Linked DNA regions of Homo sapiens. The protein of the gene in region 1 interacts with the protein of each later gene in a biochemical or structural test. Each region holds a gene or a part of one and is shown in the gene's direction. Other genes may lie near its edges.

Region 1 (9,525 bases):
TGTTTCATTTTCATTTTTTTAAGGGGGCAGCGAGATGAAACGAAAACGCCTCGGTTTTCCCCTAAACCTCTCACAGCTGCCGTGAGAAAAGGGCAGGGCAGGAAGGGCCGGCGGCTGGGGGTGGTGCTGCCCGAGGTGGCTGGAAGCTGAGGCCGTCCCTGCTCCCATTAAGACGACTCTAAATGGGAAAAAAAGGAAGAGTGGCTCTTTGAGGTCTCCCGGGTGACATCTTAAAATACCAGTGGGGGAAATCTCGCCGGGAGGGGCGGGAGGCCCGTGTGACTTTAATCGTCAGATCGGAGGTTTTACTGTCACTTGGAGCTTAAAAGGAGTCTTTGAAATTAAAAGAAGACAGGATGTTGACAGGAAATCTGGTCTTCTTAATCAGATCCCAAACATTTTCTCCTTGAAATTTTTACCATATGGATCCCCAGTCCCTGCACGCGGCGGCCACGTTTAAATAGTTGTGACTCTGTTTAAAGTCTGATTCTTTTTCAAAAGGCATCCGCCTCTCCGTGCTCCTGGGGGTGGGGGATTTGGGGGAGATGGTGTTTAGGGGGACATCGCCACCCCCATCCTGCAATTCCCGGCAGGTGCATCCTTCCATTATCAAAAGCCCCACTCTCACTTTAAAGGGGTTTTCTGGTGGCCTTTTTCAAAACACCAGTGAGTTTTGCATTCTGCATTTTCTCTGCATAACGAATTTAGGCTCTGCAGAGGCCAATAAACTGGGCCTGGTCCACATTTCAGGGCCAAATTTCATGCCCTAAACAGCTCTTGCATAAATTGAGTGGGGGTAGCAGCCCTGTTGTTATTATTGTTGTTACTCTTTCTCATTTGGAGACTTCGTTGCTAGGAGCATGTTGATTCCTCTTTCGCTGCAGCCGAAGACAACAGGGGAACTGCACCCCACATCATAGTGACTGAGCTGATTCACAGCTCTGGCTTAGATTTCATTGAAAGGATGATTTCTTGGGACACAGTTTATGTAAGCAGTTGATCTAGGATTTTGGTGTGGAAGCTCGAGATTCCATCTTCTTGTTTTCGTGATATTTGGGGGAAGGTCTTTATTGTTTTTAAGCCTCTTCTCCACCCTGCATTGGAGAAATACTCAGTGTGCCTGGGACCTGGGGGAGCTGCCCAGCCCAGCCCCTCCCCTCCTTTCCCTGGTCACCCTCTTCCTTTCTAAGCTGTCCCCCTGCATCCCCCCGCCCCGTGTCTTCAGGTGGTGGCATTGGGGGACGTGCCGGATGGTACGGTGGTGACTGTGATGGCAGGCAATGACGAGAACTACTCCGCTGAGCTGCGCAATGCCTCGGCCGTCATGAAGAACCAGGTGGCCAGGTTCAACGACCTTCGCTTCGTGGGCCGCAGTGGGCGAGGTAAGTGGAAGGGAGGCCTCGCCATTTCAGCATTGGCAATGGCAGGGGCAGCAGGGAAGGAGGTTGAAAGAGGGGCCTTAGAATCCCGAAAAACAGGTCTCCAGATGCAGCTCTGTCTAAAAACAGCAATTTGTAATCCTGTAGGATATTACAGATCGCTTTGAGGAGGTGAGGAAAGTTATGGTCTCTTGCCAGAAAAAGACAATTTTCTCCCAGTTTCTAGGGTTTACCAACTCCTGAAACCGTTCATGCCACCCCCTCTTTCCCGGTTAAGCACACCTGGTCTCACAAAAAATGCTGGCAGGAGATGGTGGATTAACAAGCTCAAAAAGGGAGCTTATAGGTCTTTCAGCAAGGCGGTTGCAGGACAAGTCCCTGATCTGTGGGGCCCAAGCACCCCAGCCACTCTCTCCATAGGGGGCAGAATATCCCCCACACTCTGAGGCTGTCTCTCCAGCTGTGGTCTCCCAGACCCAGTTTCCCAGCGCCTTTGAGCCCTAGGTGGTCTAGAACGGAAGCTAACGCAGCTGAATGTTGGAAAGCACAGCTCGAAGGCTGCCATCTCCTGCCCCAGAGTCAAGGCGGGTGTGCCACCCTGCCTGTCTGACCGACCTTGAGCAGCAGAAGGAAGGCGGGACGGGGGTGGGGGGCTGTTGAATGGGAGGCTTCTGGGACCTGAAACCCATCATCACTTAACTCCTGGATGGGAAAGTCCTGGAAACCCTGCCCCTGTGGAACGGAGGCCTGAGGGTCCACTGGCCCTTTAAGACCAGCCTGCCTACGAGAAGTGGCTGAAGTGGGAGTCGCCCTTCCCAAGCACCAGGCCCGCCTCTAGCTTTGTTAAGAAGTAAGCTGGGTTCCCTCTGCTCCCCAACTCCACAGCAGGCTGAAGTGGCTGAAGCAGAACCGTGCTTTTCATCACCAATAAACAGGACCTTCTCAAGGTTCTAGTTCCCTCTGAGCTGCCAGCCCCGCTCTGAAACAGGCATCTGGGCACCATTTTTTCCTTTCCAGCCGTTCGATGTATACATACAAATGTCAGCCATATTTTGACTTTTCAGCATTAATTAAAACCAGGACATTATTTGCATGTAATAACTGTTTACTTGTTACTTTTTATGAAACTGAAATAGTTTACATTCTTTCAAACATTTCCTGTTCCTGTTGGCTCCCTTCCCCACACACAGATTTCTTTCAAACGGTGCCCTTAACTGGTTGCAGGTTGATGGATGGAAAATGTTTGCTTTTATGAATTAAGCTTTCATTGCTGCTCCTAATTAGTCTCCAAGTCCCTTTTGTCATCCCCAATCTCTCAAACCCTTTGCGACTTAATCCCAACCCTGAGAGGACAGTCACTGGTCCTTGGTCGGTGGCAGACAAGGCTGATGAGCTCTGCTGACTGCGGGGCAGTGGCCAGGTCTGCTAGCCCAGGTATGTGTCAGGAGCACTATAGCTGCTGCCTGTTGCGAGGCGGGCAGAAGGTGCTGTCGATCTGGGAGCCCAGCAAGGCATCAGGAACTTGATTCTCCCTTCCCACTCTCTCTCCTGGGAAGCGAGAGAAAGAGAAGAGACGACGATTTTCTGAGTTACCGAGACCTTGTCTGGCCATTCTGCACACTGAGAATGATTTTTTTAGGGGTTTTCATGCCCACAGACCTTGAGCCCCCCTCCCCAGGCCTGCAGGGAGGGAAATGGGTTTCCAAGGCGTTGGTTGGGAGCTTGTCCTTGTAGCAGGAATGGCCGAGGCTGGGACTGTGGCTCTGGGAGATGCAAGAGGCTGAGTTTATAAACCATTCTCTCATCCATCTCCTCTCAGAGGTCCATAACCAGTCTCAGTGGTCCTGGGAGGCAGGAAGTGATCTGAGGAGGAGTTCCGATGTCTGAGGAACTGTGGCTAAGGCGTTCAGCCTTCAGAGGCTCGAGGTCTTTGAGAGCCTGCATTCTAGTATCAGCCACCCTGCGTTTGAGTCCCAGCTCTGCTAATGACTTGCTGGATGACATTGGGCAAATGACTTAACCACTCTGTGCCTCAGTTTCCTCATCTGTGAGATGGGGATGATAATGGTACCTACCTCATGAGATTTTGGGAAGGTTAGGGAAATTGACACAAGTGTATCAGCTGGCGCATATTGAGAGCTGGATACATGTTAGAGATTTTGTTACTTCAAATGCCTGGGACTGGAGGAGGACTTTGAGGTCCCTTTGAGCGGTGACAGCCACTGATTCTCTGATTACTGTGTGGTTTGGGCGGGGGTGGGGGAAACCCAGAAGGTGTGAACTGCTGAGTGGGAGAGGTGGAGGCGGTTGGCAGGGAGGAAGGAGGGTGCCGGGTCCGCTGGCATGCAGACACACATCTGCAGTGCCCATCCTGCTGACTGGGAAATTCCCACCTGAGAGAACAGTCAGTGGTTGACAGTGACAATCTGGGCCACTTTAGGAGATGGGACACTTTGGGAGTTAAGACTGGGGGTTGGGACCCAGAACCCTTGCCTGGGTCTCTTGACTTCTGCCAGAACTAAGAAGTCTGATGGAAACCTCTGCTTGTTGCCTCAATTTTTAGTTCTACATTCTGTCTGAATTCCAGGAAGATGGCTTTCCATGAAAGACACGCACCCAGTAACACCACAGAGCTCTTAACAACAGGGCTGAAGGTGTGAACCAAGAAAAGGAAGGGAGGAAAACCAGGTCATTGCTGTCTCCTGCAGTGATTAGGGCTGAGGTCCCTGCCCTGCCAGACACGAGGAGCCTTTCTTACAATACATATTTTATATCAAGCCTTACTATTCTACGTTGAAATGTATAAATAATGAAACCTACCTATTTACATGCAGTTGCAAACTATGTTATTCCATAGCTATGATGGAGAAAAAAAGGGAAAGTAATTTATAATAAAACACTGATTTGAATATGTAAACGTTGGGGCCACAGGACTCCATGAGGTGGACGAATGCCCTCCATGCAGAAGCCCACAGCAGAGGGAACAGGCAGGGTGGCAGGGCTCAATCTGAACCTGGCCTTGCTGCCAATACCATGACTTTCTGAAGTTGTCAACACCTGTTGGCAAAGCGCTGAACAAAATTAAAAAAAAAAAAAGAACTGTCTTTCCTTCTGGAAAATTCAGTAGATATTAAAAGTACAAAAAAAACCCTTGTTTTATGTAAAACTGAGTTAGGTTCATGACTCAGATAATTTTTTTTTCTTTTACTTTTTTTTGGGACAAGGTCTCGCTCTGTCGCCCAGGCCAGGGTGCAGTGGTGCGATCACTGCAGTCTCAACCTCCTGGTCTCAAGCAGTCCTCCCACCTCAATAGCTGGGACTATAGGCATGCGCCACCATGCTCAGCTGATTTTTTAAAATTATTTGTTGTAGAGATGGGGGTGTTGTTCACTGTGTTGCTCAGGCTGGTCTTGAACTCCTGGACTCAAGCGATCCTCCTGCCTCAGCCTCTCAAAGTGTTGGGATTACAGGCATGAGCCACTGCGACCAGCCAGAGAACTTTTATAAGCAAGTTTTTCCCTCCCAGGAAGAATTGAATCTTCACCACCCTGGGCAGCGTTGGGTGCTGGCATCCCCCACCACATACACGCACCCCACCCCTAACGCTGGCAGTGCCACCCCAACACTATGTTGACCACACGCCACCACAAATCCCAAAAATGCCCCTCTAGCAGGCGGCCACTGGCCTAAGTGAAAATGAAAAGCACATGAGCTCTCGAGCTGTGATCAACTGGTTAAAAAGCAACTGTGTGTCGACAGAGATTCGGGGTGCAGTGTGCCGGTGCAGGCTGAGGGGAACCGCTGGTTGGGGGAGAGATGAATGGCTTCTTGGCTGAAGCTGAGAAAACCCCGAGGTCCCCTGAGACTGAGACACGTCCCCTCCCCCCACCCATGCAGCTCCTGTGGGTGGGGCGGGGACCTTATACACATAGGAACCCAGGCAGAGAATGCTCAAGGACTTGCCTGAGGCCCTGCTGCCACCCCGGCTGGTTGATGATGGGTCCTGGAGGAGTTTCTGGAGCCCTAAAGGAAACCCATTTCCCAGACCAAGACTTCTCCCCTGCAACCAGGGCCAGCCCTCAGAGAGCCTGGGTTTACACTTCCTGGGCTCCTGATGGATTGCAGGTTTGCCTGGGACTCCTGCACAGAGTTATATCTAGAGGCTGAGAGAGAGGGATGGATGGGTTTGCCACTGCCAGGCAGAGAGAGAGCTGGGCAGGGCCGGGGTAGCTGAGGGGCACTCAGGGAGACAGCTTTCTCCCACCCCTGCTCCCCAGGCTCCCTGTCTCCCGAGGTCCAGGACTCCTGCCCCTCCCTCTCACTCCTCCTCTTAGGCCCCACACTCCTCTCCTTTGTACCTGGGAGGGGTGGTGACAGGCGTGGAAGCTGGTGGAAGCGGCCGAGGAGTGCTGGTGACCTCAGGGGTGGCATGTGGTTTGCTACCTGGTATGGGTGGGGGCTTCTCACTTCTCAGGAGCGGGACGTTAGTACCTGTGTGCAAAATGGGAGCCATTATCTCTGCCCTTAATTTATTTAACAAATGTTGTTGAGCACCTACTCTGTGCCGGATGCCGTCCTAGGGGCTGGAGACACTGCATGAACAAGACAAAAACTTGGGCCCCTGGGGAGGTTATAATCTAGTAGAAGGAGACAAAATGAGTAGATGGATTATTAAAAGCATATGCATTGTGAGAAAATTCCAGCAGGTGCAGGGAATAGAGAAAGGGAGTGGTAGGGCCTGTGATACTTCAGGTTGAGCTGCTTAGCGCTTTTTTTTTTTTTTTTTTTTTTTTTGCCCTGTGGGCCCCTCTGATAGCTGGTGAAGCCCGCACACCTTTCTCAGAACAATGATATTTTTAAGGTATAAAATCAAATACAAAGTATTACAATAGAAACCATTTCTATTAAAACATAGCAAAATACTTTAAAAATTGTGGTAAATGTGCTGCTTTATTCAATGTATTAAATAAGATCTAGCATTGGGCCTAATGACAACCATGGTTTTGAAGTTGTGATGAGCATAAAAGATATTTAGAGCAATCTGCAGCAACTGTAATGTGATATGTAAGTATCTGTGACGTCTGTTGGTGACAAGGTCACAGGTACGGCTGATAATACCTCTGTGGTTTGTTGCCTACGCTCGTACTTGAGAGTGATGCTAAATTTCAGTTAGAGGTTAGGGACAATACAATTGTAATTTTTTCCTACCCTAGTTCTCAGGCTCATTCAACTCTACGGAGCCAAGTTAAAAATGCCTTCCAGGTGTAGTGGTTTACGACTGTAATCCCAACACTTTGGGAGGCCAAGGCAGGAGGATCACTTGAGCCCAGGAGTTCAAGACCAGCCTGGGCACATAGTAAAAGCTTGAAAAAAAAAAAAAAGAAAGAAAGGAAAGAAAGAAAAGAAAGGAAAGGAAGGAAGGAAGGGAGGGAAGGAAAAGAAGGAAGGGAAAAAAAGAAATAGCCGGGCATGGTGGCGCTCACCTGTTGTCCCAGCTACTCAGGAGGCTGAGACAGGAGGATCACTTGAGCCCGGGAGGTCCAGGCTGCAGTGAGCTATGATCATGCCACTGCACTCCAACCTGGGTGACAGAGCAAGACCTTGTCTCAAAAAAATTAATTAAAATTAAAAATGCCTACTTCAGATAAAGTGACCAGGGAAGGCCTGACTGAGAAGGTGGGCGACCTGAAGGAGGGTTTTAGTAAGCTTTCAAATGCTGCTGTGGGCCCGGGGCCCTGTGGCAGGGCACTGGGACCCATTAGTCCTCCGTGTCTCCAGTCTGGCCCCTAGGGCTCTGGGCTGTCTGCCTAAACTCCCCGTCATAACCAAGAAGGTGCTGGACAATGCTGGCAGGGTCAGAGGCTCAGGGACCCCAGGAGAGTGCTGGGCTGGTTGGAGGAGAAAGAGGTCCAGCAGAGAAATGACCTCAGAGTGAGGAAAGGCAGTAGGAGGGGTCGGGCAGGGAGCCCGAGGCATCTGCCTGGCACTTCCCTAGACCATCTGCACTTCTGCTTCCAGAAATCATACAAAGTGGCCCCTGTGACCTGAGAGTGGGAGACCAGGTCTGTTCTGACCTGGGGCTCCGGGGGCAAGTGCAGTCAGAATTTCTATCCCTGCCTCAGCCGACTGGCTTAGGAAAAGGCTTCCAGAGAAGCCCCTCATTTCCCAGCTGGAGTGACACTCAGTGGGTCTTGAGCTTTAAATTCCCCCTGGTGTCTCAGAGGGCCTTGGGTCCTGTGGCATGGCTCCTGGCAGCCTGGCTGGTTTAATTTTGTTCCGGATTCTCCTGCCTCTGGGGCTAGAATTTTCACTTGATCAGTTGACTAACAAGTACCCGGCCATGCAAAGAGAACTGTGAGATACTGGTCTCCACCCTGAGCTTCATCTCCCACCTGCAACGTGGGGCTGTTGAAACCTACCTGCTCACTTTGGAGGCGTGTCAGGGGGACACCAGAGGGATGCGCTTGGGCAGCCTCTCTCCTTGACCATCCTGTGCCAGCCCTGGGGTACAGGTGAGAGTGCGAGACCATTGGCCCCTACCCACAGGGAGTTCCCAGGCCTGTACGTGGGATCCAGAGGCAGGGATAGGGGGATAAAGTCTGGCTTGGGGGATCCGCAAATCTCCCCCGCTCCCGGCCACCAATCTCATAAAGCATGAGGCTGTGGATCGTAATAGAGAATAGGGTGAGAGGAGGACTCTTACCCAGACCCCCAAACTCCCAGACACATCAGAGAATTCACTGTAGAAAGTAGAGAGAAGACTGTCGAAAGTAAATCTTCATAAACTGCTTTCTACACGGAGAAACCCGTCTGAACATAAAACGATAGAAGAACGAGAAATAGAAGTGAAAATGAAAAACCACCCAGCGTGTGAAGGCAAAATGTGCAGGCCTGTGCCCGGGGAAACTGATGGCCACAAATACAGCATGGAAAGTATTAACAAGCTTAATATATAGCAATTTTTAAAAGGCACTAAAACCTTCACAGGAAAGTAAAAGAACATGAAGCAGTAATTTGTGTTGGATTATGATGGATAATAATCATATAAAAAGTTTCATTCTCACTAGTAATAGAAAAAAAGGCAAACAAAATCAAGAGCGTGTAAAAGATCTTCCATCTTGATAGACACATCCCTGGGGTGTGACGCAGCCTCACACGCGAGGGTGACGACTAAATCTCTCCGGAGAGTCATCTCACTCCAAGAGGGATCCGCGCCCGTAATATGTCCCAACCCTCTGCTGCCGTGAAATCACTCACCGCTTCTTGGAATCTCTTCTAAGGAAATAAGCAGAGATGCAGACAAAGATTTTTATAAACAGAAGGTCACTTTCATTTTATTTTAAATGGTAAAAAAAAAAAAAAGTAGTATTTTAAAAGTTTTTTCCCCTCTCAGGAATTTTGAATGGAGACTTTGGAGCCAAATGTCTATCTAAAAATAGAACATTCTGGAAATAACAGTTGTGTCTACAGAAGAAATGTCTGCAGCTCCCAAATCAGTCCTTTTTCAGCTCCAGCTGCACACATCAATAAGAAATTAGCAACGATGTAAATACCCGAGAGTAAGGAGGTAGATAAATAAAAGATGAGGAGGCTTCCTTGAGTTGAAATATTTTGCAGCCATTAAAAACGAAGTTTATGGAGTTTTAATGACGTGGGAAAGTGCTTCTGATGTGAGGTTAAATGAAAAAAAAAACAGTATGAAAATCTGTATTTTAGTACCACTGCGACTGTGTAAATATACAAACCCATACAAAAAGAGCTGAAAGGGAAAACACCAAATGGTAACGGTGTCTATCTCCAGCTAGTGGAACCGTGGGGGGGGGGTGTCTTTTCTTCTTTATTTATATTTTGTATGTTCTTGAATTTTTCTACAAAGATCACCAATTACTTTCAGAAAATAGAATATACCCATCCTGCTCCCCACCACAAAATCGTGTGGGTCTCTGAATAGAAGAGACAGCAGAAAGGCCAAGAAGAGGGGAACATGAGCCAGGGTGGTCACGGCATGGGGCGGGGGGTTGACAAAGTTGGCGTCAGACCCCCAGGGGCCTTGAATGCCAAGCCCAAGAGCTTGAACTTCACCCAGAGCCCTATCTTCTGCCCATGTTCAAAGAGGACAGAGTGCCCCTTCTTGACAGTTAGGGGC
Region 2 (9,525 bases), on another chromosome or scaffold:
AATAGCTGTGACTGCAGGCATGCGCCACCACGCCCGGCTAATTTTTGTATTTTTAGTAGAGACAGGGTTTCACCACGTTGGCCAGGCTGGTCTTGAACTCCTGGCCTCAAGCGATCCACCTGCCCGCCTCGGCCTCCCAAAGTGCTGGGATTACAGGCGTGAGCCACTGTGCCCGGCTGAACAGCTTTTCCGAATCTTTTCCAAACCCAGTGCTACCTTGGAGTTTCCTCTGATTAGTAAATATGATAGCTTTATGAGGGGACAATGAGAGCCCTATTGCAGAATGCCATTGCCCTTCAAATATTGCCATCTATTATCTTTCCAAAAATACTTCAAGCTGATTGCTAAAAAGGTTTATTTTTAATTTACTTTTTTGTTACTTAAGAGAAAAAGATTGGGTTTTGTTTGCTTATTCGATCCACCAGCTAGCTTTCCAGGATTCTTTTTTTTTTTTTTTTTTGCATTAACTAGTAATCCCATGGGAAAATGGTTTCCCTTGAAATCATATGGAAAAACTCTGATATAAGGGTGTGCAGATCTCAAATTAAAGATTTCATCCCTCGAGAAATTCAGCTGTTGCAACCATTTACTGAGCTCTTACAATCTGCCAAGTATTTGCAACTTGCCATCACCTGTAAACAAGTTGTGATTGGATAGTTGGTTTGCTACTGCTACAGAATTCCTGCCTGAAGCTTTGCCTAGCCCCAGGTCAGATGAGAAGAGGGGGAAGATGATAATAATTACTAGGACTGGCAAACTGATAGAGAGCCTGCAGGCCTGTCCCAGGTAGTTTTTTTAGTCTGTCTGCTACCAGGAACTATAGAAAGAAATCTAACTGTGCCTCAAACCTATTCTTAGCTTTTAGTAAATGGCGTTAATGTTTCTTTTTTCCAGGACAGTGATGGTGACAAAAGCGATGACAACTTAGTTGTGGATGTGTCTAATGAGGTAACCATTCTTTTCATCAAAGTTTGTCTTCAGAATGATTTGAATAATGTTATGAAAAAAAACTAACAGTGAATGAAGGAAGTAGAGCCCCTCGGTGGGGGGACCTCTTGCAACTTCTTACATTAAGAAGTTAATGGTTGCTCATGTATGGAGCAATAATGGTCTAACTGACATAAAGTTTTATTTCCTTTAAAAAAAGATATTTCTCTAGACATTTTGAATGCCTAAGTTGGATGTTTGGCTCCCCTTTCCTTCCAGTGCCCTCTAGGCAAAGTTCTTAAGCATGAGGCACAAAGAGGGATATGACTGCGGGGTTTTTTTTTTATGGCATGTTTGCAGGTATGTTTGCCGACACCATATTGCTCATTTATAACATGGTGTTGGTCACCTTGTACAACCCCAACCCGAAGGACTTTCAGCTCTGTCCTTAAATTTAGAGAATGAGTGTGGAAAGGGAAAAGTCTGTCTGTTACAAGCTAAATCACGAAAACTTTTGATTATGCTTGTTGAGGACCCTTCTTCTCCGCGAGCAAGCCCTGCCCACTCGCCCCGGGAAAATGGAATCGACAAAAATCGCCTGCTAAAGAAGGATGCTTCTAGCAGTCCAGCTTCCACGGCCTCCTCGGCAAGTTCCACTTCTTTGAAATCCAAAGAAATGAGCTTGGTAGGTAAAGAAAACTGACACTTGCCTGTTTGGCAGTGTATTTTTCATTGTGGACTGGAGGACTCTGAAGTATTGGAAATGTGGGGGTTTTGCTGCTTGAGGGTTGTATTTTTAAGAGTTTAATAGTGAAACTCATCCTTCTGTTCTTTGTCACCATTCAGGGTTTACTTTTTCCCCTCAGTCATCTCTTTTCGGCCATGATTAGAGGGTGTACACGCATCTGTGTTCATTGCCTTCTTCTTCTTCTTCTTCTTTTTTTTTTTTTTTTTGAGACGGAGTCTCACTCCATCATCCAGGCTAGAGTGCAGTGGTGCAGTCTCAGCTCACTGCAGCCTCTGCCTCCTGGGTTCAAGCGATTCTCCTGCCTCTGCCCCCTGAGTAGCTGGGATTACAGGCGCGCGCGACCATGCCCAGCTAATTTTTTTTTTTTTTTTTTTGTATTTTTAGTAGAGATGGGGTTTTGCCATGTTTGTCAGGCTGGTCTTGAACTCCTGACCTCTTTGATCCACCCGCCTCAGCCTCCCAAAGTGTTGGGATTACAAGCCCAGCCTCATTGCCGTCTTACTTGGGGGATATGTTCTTGCCACACAGCTCTCTGAAACTTCCCAGTTGACAAATGGTTCAAACTTCTGAGATTCTTTTTTTTTTTTTCTGAGACGGAGTCTCACTCTGTTGCCCAGGCTGGAGTGCAGTGGCGTGATCTCGGCACACTGCAACCTCCACCTCCCAGGTTCAAACAATTCTCCTGCCTCAGCCTCCCCAGTAGCTGGGATTACAGGCACTCACCACCACGCCTGGTACCACCATACATTAGAGAGGGTGTACACGCATCCATGTTCATTGCCTTCTTCTTCTTCTTCTTTTTTTTTTTTTTTTTTTTTTTTTTTTTTTTTTTTTTTTGAGATGGAGTCTCACTCTGTCACCCAGGCTGGAGTGCAGTGGTGCAATCTTGGCTTATTACAGGGTTTCATGTTGGCCATGCTGGTCTTGAACTCCTGACCTCAGGCAATCTGCCTGCCTTGGCCTCCCAAAGTGCTGGGATTACAGGTGTGAGCCACCGCACCTGGCCTCAAACTTCCGAGATTCTTAAGTCTTCATTTTCTTAGGCTGGTCATTTACCTGGTAGACTGATCCTTAATATCGGGGCATGTCATAGAGCATGCCCCGATATTATGGAGCTCGTCAGATCAGTGATGCACAAAGGAGGCCCCAGGGGAAGCCAGGAACTGGTGCATCAGAACCCACTCATGTGGTCACTCATTCAATCAAACTTTGTAGACTGCATCATCTTTTAACAATAACATTTCATAACAACCCTTCAGTTAATCCTTACCTGGTCCCGGTAGGCATTATCCCATTTTACCGGTTGGGAGGGATGAATAACTTAACAAGGCTACACAGCCGTGGCTCATGATCCAAGGTCAGAAAGAGCTCTCTTTAGCCCGTGCTCTTTGCCACGCTGTAGTGGTTCTTGGACTGTGTTGTAAAGCACATGAAAGGTTGAAAGGCCAGAGAAGGTGCCCTGTAACCCTGTTACTGTCTGGTCTCCGAAAGGCCCCTTGCTGGTGTTCAGTCTCTGATCTGCACTGGTGGGTCCACTTTGGTTATGTAGGCAAGTGGGCAGTGACTCTTAACTCCAAAGTGTTGTTCTTTTTAGGCATATTGGTAAGGTTAGCCCTGGGGCTTTTGTCTCTGAGATACTGGCCCCACTCTCTCTCACCATTTGTCTCAATCCCAGGGCTACCTAAAAAGGAGACTTGAAAAGGGGTCTTCTGGCCTGGCGCGGTGGCTCAGGCCTGTAATCCCAGCACTTTGGGAGGCCAAGGCGGGTGGATCACGAGGTCAGGAGATCGAGACCATCCTGGCTAACATGGTGAAACCCCGTCTCCACTAAAAATACAAAAAAATTAGCTGGGCATGGTGGCGGGCACCTGTAGTCCCAGCTACTCAGGAGGCAGAGGCAGGAGAATGGCGTGAACCCGGGAGGCGGAGCTTGTAGTAGGCCGAGATTGCGCCACTGCACTCCAGCTTGGGTGACAGAGTGAGACTCCATCTCAAAAAAAAAAAAAAAAAAAGAAAAGAAAAGGGGTCTTCCTTGGACTTGGCGGCCAGGACATGTGTTTCTGAGTGCCTGGGAAATATTCTCTGGGTGGTCATCTTTCTAACTTGGCGTAGACCCAAAGTCCACAAGGCTGATGGAAAATACTTTTAAAATAAAATCTGCGGAGGAAGAAGTGTGATCATGTTCTGTGTCTCTAGCTCGAGTTTTAATTCTGGCAGGAAGAGGAAAGGTCAACATTTCTCGCTCACAAGTTAATGCTGTCAACATTGTGTGGATTTATGAAAATTGGCTGAGGGAGTAGCTAGAAGGTGCCCAGTGTCCCAGCTGCTGTTGTGATAAATTGTGTAATATGGCTTGGATTAAAAATAATACTCATTTAATTTGTTTAATGACACCAGCATGAAAAAGCCAGCACGCCTGTTCTGAAATCCAGCACACCAACGCCTCGGAGCGACATGCCAACGCCGGGCACCAGCGCCACTCCAGGCCTCCGTCCAGGTCTCGGCAAGCCTCCAGCCATAGACCCCCTCGTTAACCAAGCGGGTACAGCATCGCCTCTTGTTGTGCTTTGTTTGGTTTCTCCCATTCCCAGCTTGATTTGTTGTCTGTTAATGTTGTGACGCAATTGCCCTACAAATATGAAATGTACGTAGGGCCACCCTCCTTCCTATCTCTGAAAAAGCCATGATAAGAAACAGATGTTTGTCCTGGGGTTTCAGCAGCTGCACTCTGTTCAGTCTCCAACTGTTTACATTCAGCTTTTCTTTTTTTCTTGAGACGAAGTCTCGCTCTTGTCCCCCCAGGCTGGAATGCAATGGCGTGATCTCAGCTCACTGCAACCTCTGCCTCCTGGGCTTTGAGACGAAAGTCTTGCTCTTGTCCCCCCCAGGCTGGAATGCAATGGCGGGATCTCAGCTCACTGCAACCTCTGCCTCCTGGGTTCAAGCGATTCTCTTGCCTGAGCCTCCTAAAGAGCTGGGATTACAGGCGCCTGCCACCACGCCTGGCTAATTTTTGTATTTTTAGTAGAGACGGGGTTTCACCATGTTGGCCAGGCTGGTCTCAAACTCCTGACCTCAGGTGATCTGCCCATCTCGGCCTCCCAAAGTGCTGGGATTACAGGCGTGAGCTACCTTGCCCAGCCTTCTTTTAGTTTTAAATAATTCAAATCCTAGGGACTTCAGTAAAGTTTCTGATAATTATTTTGAACACAAGCCTCCCCACCTAACTAGCATTGTGCGTCTGACTTTGCTAATACTGGCTGAAACAGCGGTTTGGCTGGCCCAACCGTGCTCCTTGCAGACTATAGTTTGCTGGTTTTCTGCTAGGGGAGGCTTCAGGAATCAGTGGTCTCTCCTGCAGTAGAAATTAGGAGGGTTTCTCTGCGACTCCAGCCCTTAAAAAACTCATAATTTGCAACCTGATATTCCCCAGTGGGAAAGGAAAAAAGCAACAACCTGGGCCCAAAGGAAAATAGGCAACAGAATATTCCTCCTAAACCCGTGCTTTGGTTTACGTAAATCCAGGATTGGATTTTCATTTGGAATTGGTACCAGGGAATGGAAAGTTCGGACTGAAAGAGAAATCTTGGATTTTATCGAGAAAATCTTCTTTTGAGATTAAGTCAGGTAAACACTTGGTGCCTGTGCCTTGGTTTGCCCTCTGTAAATTGGGTAGGGAATACTCTTAATTCCCCTGGCTTCCTGGTGCTGCCATTTACACAAATGAGAAAATGTGTGGGTTGTGCTTCCCCTGGAGTCTTTTCTTTCCTGGAGATGCATTCGCTCTGGGGAAGGAGGGATCCAGTGTATAAATTGGAGGTGATTTTCCCCCTCCCCTAGAAGCCTTACCTCTTTCTCTCTCCCCATGAGTGACACTAACAAATGATGAGGCCAGACTTGCTGGTCAGGTTTGATGGAGTGGGTCAGTTGAATGATGTGCGGCTTGTGTTTCCTTTCAGCAGCTGGCTTGAGGACACCCCTGGCAGTGCCCGGCCCATATCCTGCTCCTTTTGGGATGGTCCCCCACGCTGGCATGAACGGCGAGCTGACCAGCCCAGGCGCTGCCTACGCCAGTTTACACAACATGTCGCCCCAGATGAGCGCCGCAGCCGCCGCGGCCGCCGTGGTGGCCTACGGGCGCTCCCCCATGGTAGGCCGCTGTCGGGTGGGCTGTGGTTGGGGTAGGAACGCTGCATGCTCCATTGAGCGCTGTCAGGTTTGGGGCCAGGCCTCTCTGCGCTGCGTGGGCAGGAGCAGCCAGCCCCACACACCTCGGAGACAAAGACGCCCAGTCTCCCAGCCACACACTCACCTTCCTCTTGTCAGCTTTCATCAGCATGCTGCTTCATTAAGTGAGGGCCAAACGTTTTTTGTTTTAGTGTTTTTGTGGATGAAAAAGGCAGTGTTTAGAAGCTCCTTCAGTGGTTCAGGGGACATCTGGTTTTCTCCCACCAAAGTCGATTTTTTTTATTTGAAGGCGATGAAATGATTCGAGTGGTTCACAGAAGCCTTTTCATTCATTTTCTTGAACTTTTTTTTTCTCATTAAACCTTAGGAAAAAATGTCTGAGAAGCCATCGCTTTCTCTTTCTATGCCTATGTTACACTTTAAACCCAATAGCATGACTTATATATAAGCAGTGGTCTCTGTAAACAGGTAGAATTCTGGACAGACTGAACCACGGGGGCAGGCTGTCTCTCGTCTGTTTGCCCTGCCTCTTGCCACTGTGCAAATGATCTAATTTTTGAACAAGAAGAAACAAAACTGCATTTGAAGGGTAGAATTGGCTCTGTGATCGTTGATTGCATTAAGGGTATAAAGTCCCACCGTCATTTCTCTTGGCTGTTTGAAAAATGTCCTCTACCTTTCTCTCTTGTCCCCTCTTCACATAGCATTACCTCCACTAGTTTGCGGTGACATTAAGATTCATTTGTTTTTCCTGATATTGCACTTGTAGGAGAGGCTGTGCAGTGGCGGGCAAAGTGTTGAAAGTAAGGTGGTCAGCTGAGAGACTACATGCTGTCCTTAACGCTGCACAAAGTAGGGAATCCATGTATGAATCCTTAAGCATTAAATTAGACCCATGTATGCAACTGGGGATGATTTTGTCCCTTGAGGACATTTGATAATATCTGGAGACACTTTTGATTATCATAACTGGGGGTGGGAGGGGGGGCAGGTATGGATTCCTCTTGGCACATAAACAGTAGGGGCCAGGAATGATATTCAGCATCCTGCAACGCCCAGGACGGCCCCTAACAAAGAAAAGAACTGTTTGGCCCCAAATGTCAATAGTGCTGAGGTTGAGAAATCCTAATACAACATACTGCTCTGTGAACTTGCTTGCAAGTCTAAGGGAAGTATTTACCATGGGGAAGTGGTTCTCAGTGCACAAATAGATCACATCTCCTCTCTACCTCCCAAAAAGGAAGTGGGTCTTGTGGCGTTCAGGGGTGCTTATATTACCTCTTGCATAGTAATTAAAAAGAAAAACACTAGGCCATGTTACTGTTCCCATTTATGTTGCTTTGGGGATCTGTGAGTTTCTAATGAACAGTATTGATGTTCACAAAGTGCCTGCTGCAATAAACTGAGTCTGCAATGCCTTATTTTTGTTTCCAGGTGGGGTTTGATCCTCCCCCTCACATGAGAGTACCTACCATTCCTCCAAACCTGGCAGGAATCCCTGGGGGGAAACCGTAAGTACCTCAAAGACCTTGGTTTTGTTTTAAAGGTGGTTACTCAGTCATTGGTATTAGCAGACTAGAATTCCAAAGGGAGTACAGGCTTGGGCGTTTCCAAGGAGATTTCTGGTGTCTTTTCCTGAGGAGTGTTAACACTTTCTATAAATAGGCAGCTTGTAGGTGTCATGCCTCTGTCTTCTCCCTGGGGGTGATCTCCTTAGTTATTTCTGGAGAGAAACTGTTGGAGATGAGGACGAGGTGGGAGGAAAGAGCTGGAGGTGGCTGGCCCTCTTCGCCTGACCCCTCAGAAAGCTGCTCTGCTCTGCTCTGCCATTTGGCTAGAGGGCAGCTGCTGGAGATTCCCAACAGTGCTGTGCTGTGGGCAGTCAGCTGTCACGAACTCTTGCAGGCTTAGACACTTTTTTGAAATGTGTCATCTCTTTACTCAGCTCTGTGCCACCTTTTTCTTATTTTGGTGGAAACAAGAGTTATTTGAAGGGTAGGTTGTGTTGGATGCCAGCACCCCAGGTTTACCCCCAAGTAAAGTTTTGATGAGTGCTCCAAGAGATCTAGAATTATAAAAAGCAAAGTGGCTTCGTGGGGAAGCAGGAAAAGTTAATGTTCATTTTGTGTCCAGTGCACAAAAGAATTGGAATTTAAAAAAACTCAATTGGCTATTCTTCCTGGGTCACTTTAAAAATTGCTTCATTTTCATAATGTTAGTAATTAGAAGTGTGATTTCAAAGAATTGCTAAAGTTCTCAAATTTTTTAAACAGCAGAATTGAAATGTGAAGGTCTGTTTTGCTTAGCAGCAAAACTCTGCCTTCTCCTAAGATAGAAAATAGCAGAGGCCAGGCGCAGTGGCTCACGCCTATAATCCTAGCACTTTGGGAGGCTGAGGCGGGTGGATCACCTGAGGTCGGGGGTTCGAGACCAGCCTGGCCAATGTGGCGAAACCCCGTCTCTACTAAAAATACAAAAATTAGCTGGGCGTGGTGGTATGTGCCTGTAATCCCAGCTACTCGGGAGGCTGAGACCAGAGAATCGCTTGAACCTGGGTGGCGGAGGTTGCAGTGAGTGAAGATCATGCCACTGCACTCCAGCCTGGGTGACAGAAGGAGACTCTGTCTCAAAAAGGAAAGGAAAGGAAAGGAGAGGAGAGGAAAGGGGAGGGGAGGGGGCAGGTCTTTGCAAATGTTGTTTTTTTTCTTTTTCTTTAAGGCAGCAGATCTTTGCAAATGTTGTTGCTTTTTTTTCTTTTTCTTTTTCTTTCTTTCTTTCTTTTTTTTATTATTTTTGAGACGGAGTTTCACTCGTTGCCGAGGCTGGAGTGCAGTGGTGCGATCTCGGCTCACTGCAACCTCTGCCTCCCGGGTTCAAGCAATTCTTCTGTCTCAGCCTCTCGAGTAGCTGGGATTATGGGTGCATGCCACTATGCCTGGCTAATTTTTGTATTTTTAGTAGAGATGGGGTTTCATCATATTGGTCAGGCTGGTTTTGAACTCCTGACCTCAGCTGATCTGCCCTGCTCAGCCTCCCAAAGTGTTGCGATTACAGGCGTGAGCCACCGTGCCCAGCTGATTTTGTTTCAATAAAGGTACTGGTGCTACATGTCTTAGGCCTTCAGTTTGTTTTTGTCATACCCTTGCCTTCATGTGGTTGCTTTCAGCTTTTATCAGTACGTCACTTGCATGTCACATTAGTGAGTTTTTTATTTTTAGAAACAGGGTCTTGCTCTGTTGCCCAGGCTGAAATGCAGTGGCACAATCACAGCTCACTGCAGCCTCGACCTCCTAGGCTCCAGCCATCCTCCTGCCTTGGCTTCCTGAGTAGCTAAGACTACAGGCGTGTGTCACCATACCTGGCCAATTTTTAAATTTATTTTTGTAGTGACAGGGTCTCCCTATGTTGCCCAGGCTGGTCGTTGGGGCACTTGTGAGCATTTCCTATCTGTGGTTGCCAGCAGTGTTGTAGCTATTGTATTCCACTGATTGGTGAGTGGATAAGGGGCAAACCGGTAAAGTTGTGAGGCCCTGGCTTCACACAGTCCTCCTGCCTTGGCCTCCCAAAGTGCTTGGATTACAGGCATGAGCCACCACGCCCAGCATGGTGAATTATTTTGAGCAGTCCACTCAGCTGCCCGGTCATCCTTGTGTGGTTTTGAT

What was found.
Region 2: the proteins of RUNX3 (region 1) and TLE1 interact in far-western blotting, tested with the Homo sapiens proteins (one study listed by BioGRID and IntAct).

Annotation. Positions count from the first base shown.
Region 1 is NC_000001.11:24,919,431-24,928,955, reverse strand, and holds part of RUNX3 (runt-related transcription factor 3), read left to right. Parts: intron 1-1,225; coding exon 1,226-1,382; intron 1,383-9,525. UniProt on the Homo sapiens protein: Forms the heterodimeric complex core-binding factor (CBF) with CBFB.
Region 2 is NC_000009.12:81,608,069-81,617,593, reverse strand, and holds part of TLE1 (transducin-like enhancer protein 1), read left to right. Parts: intron 1-894; coding exon 895-948; intron 949-1,459; coding exon 1,460-1,612; intron 1,613-4,072; coding exon 4,073-4,217; intron 4,218-5,200; coding exon of another isoform or gene 5,201-5,302; intron 5,303-5,634; coding exon 5,635-5,825; intron 5,826-7,297; coding exon 7,298-7,374; intron 7,375-9,525. UniProt on the Homo sapiens protein: Transcriptional corepressor that binds to a number of transcription factors. Inhibits NF-kappa-B-regulated gene expression. Inhibits the transcriptional activation mediated by FOXA2, and by CTNNB1 and TCF family members in Wnt signaling.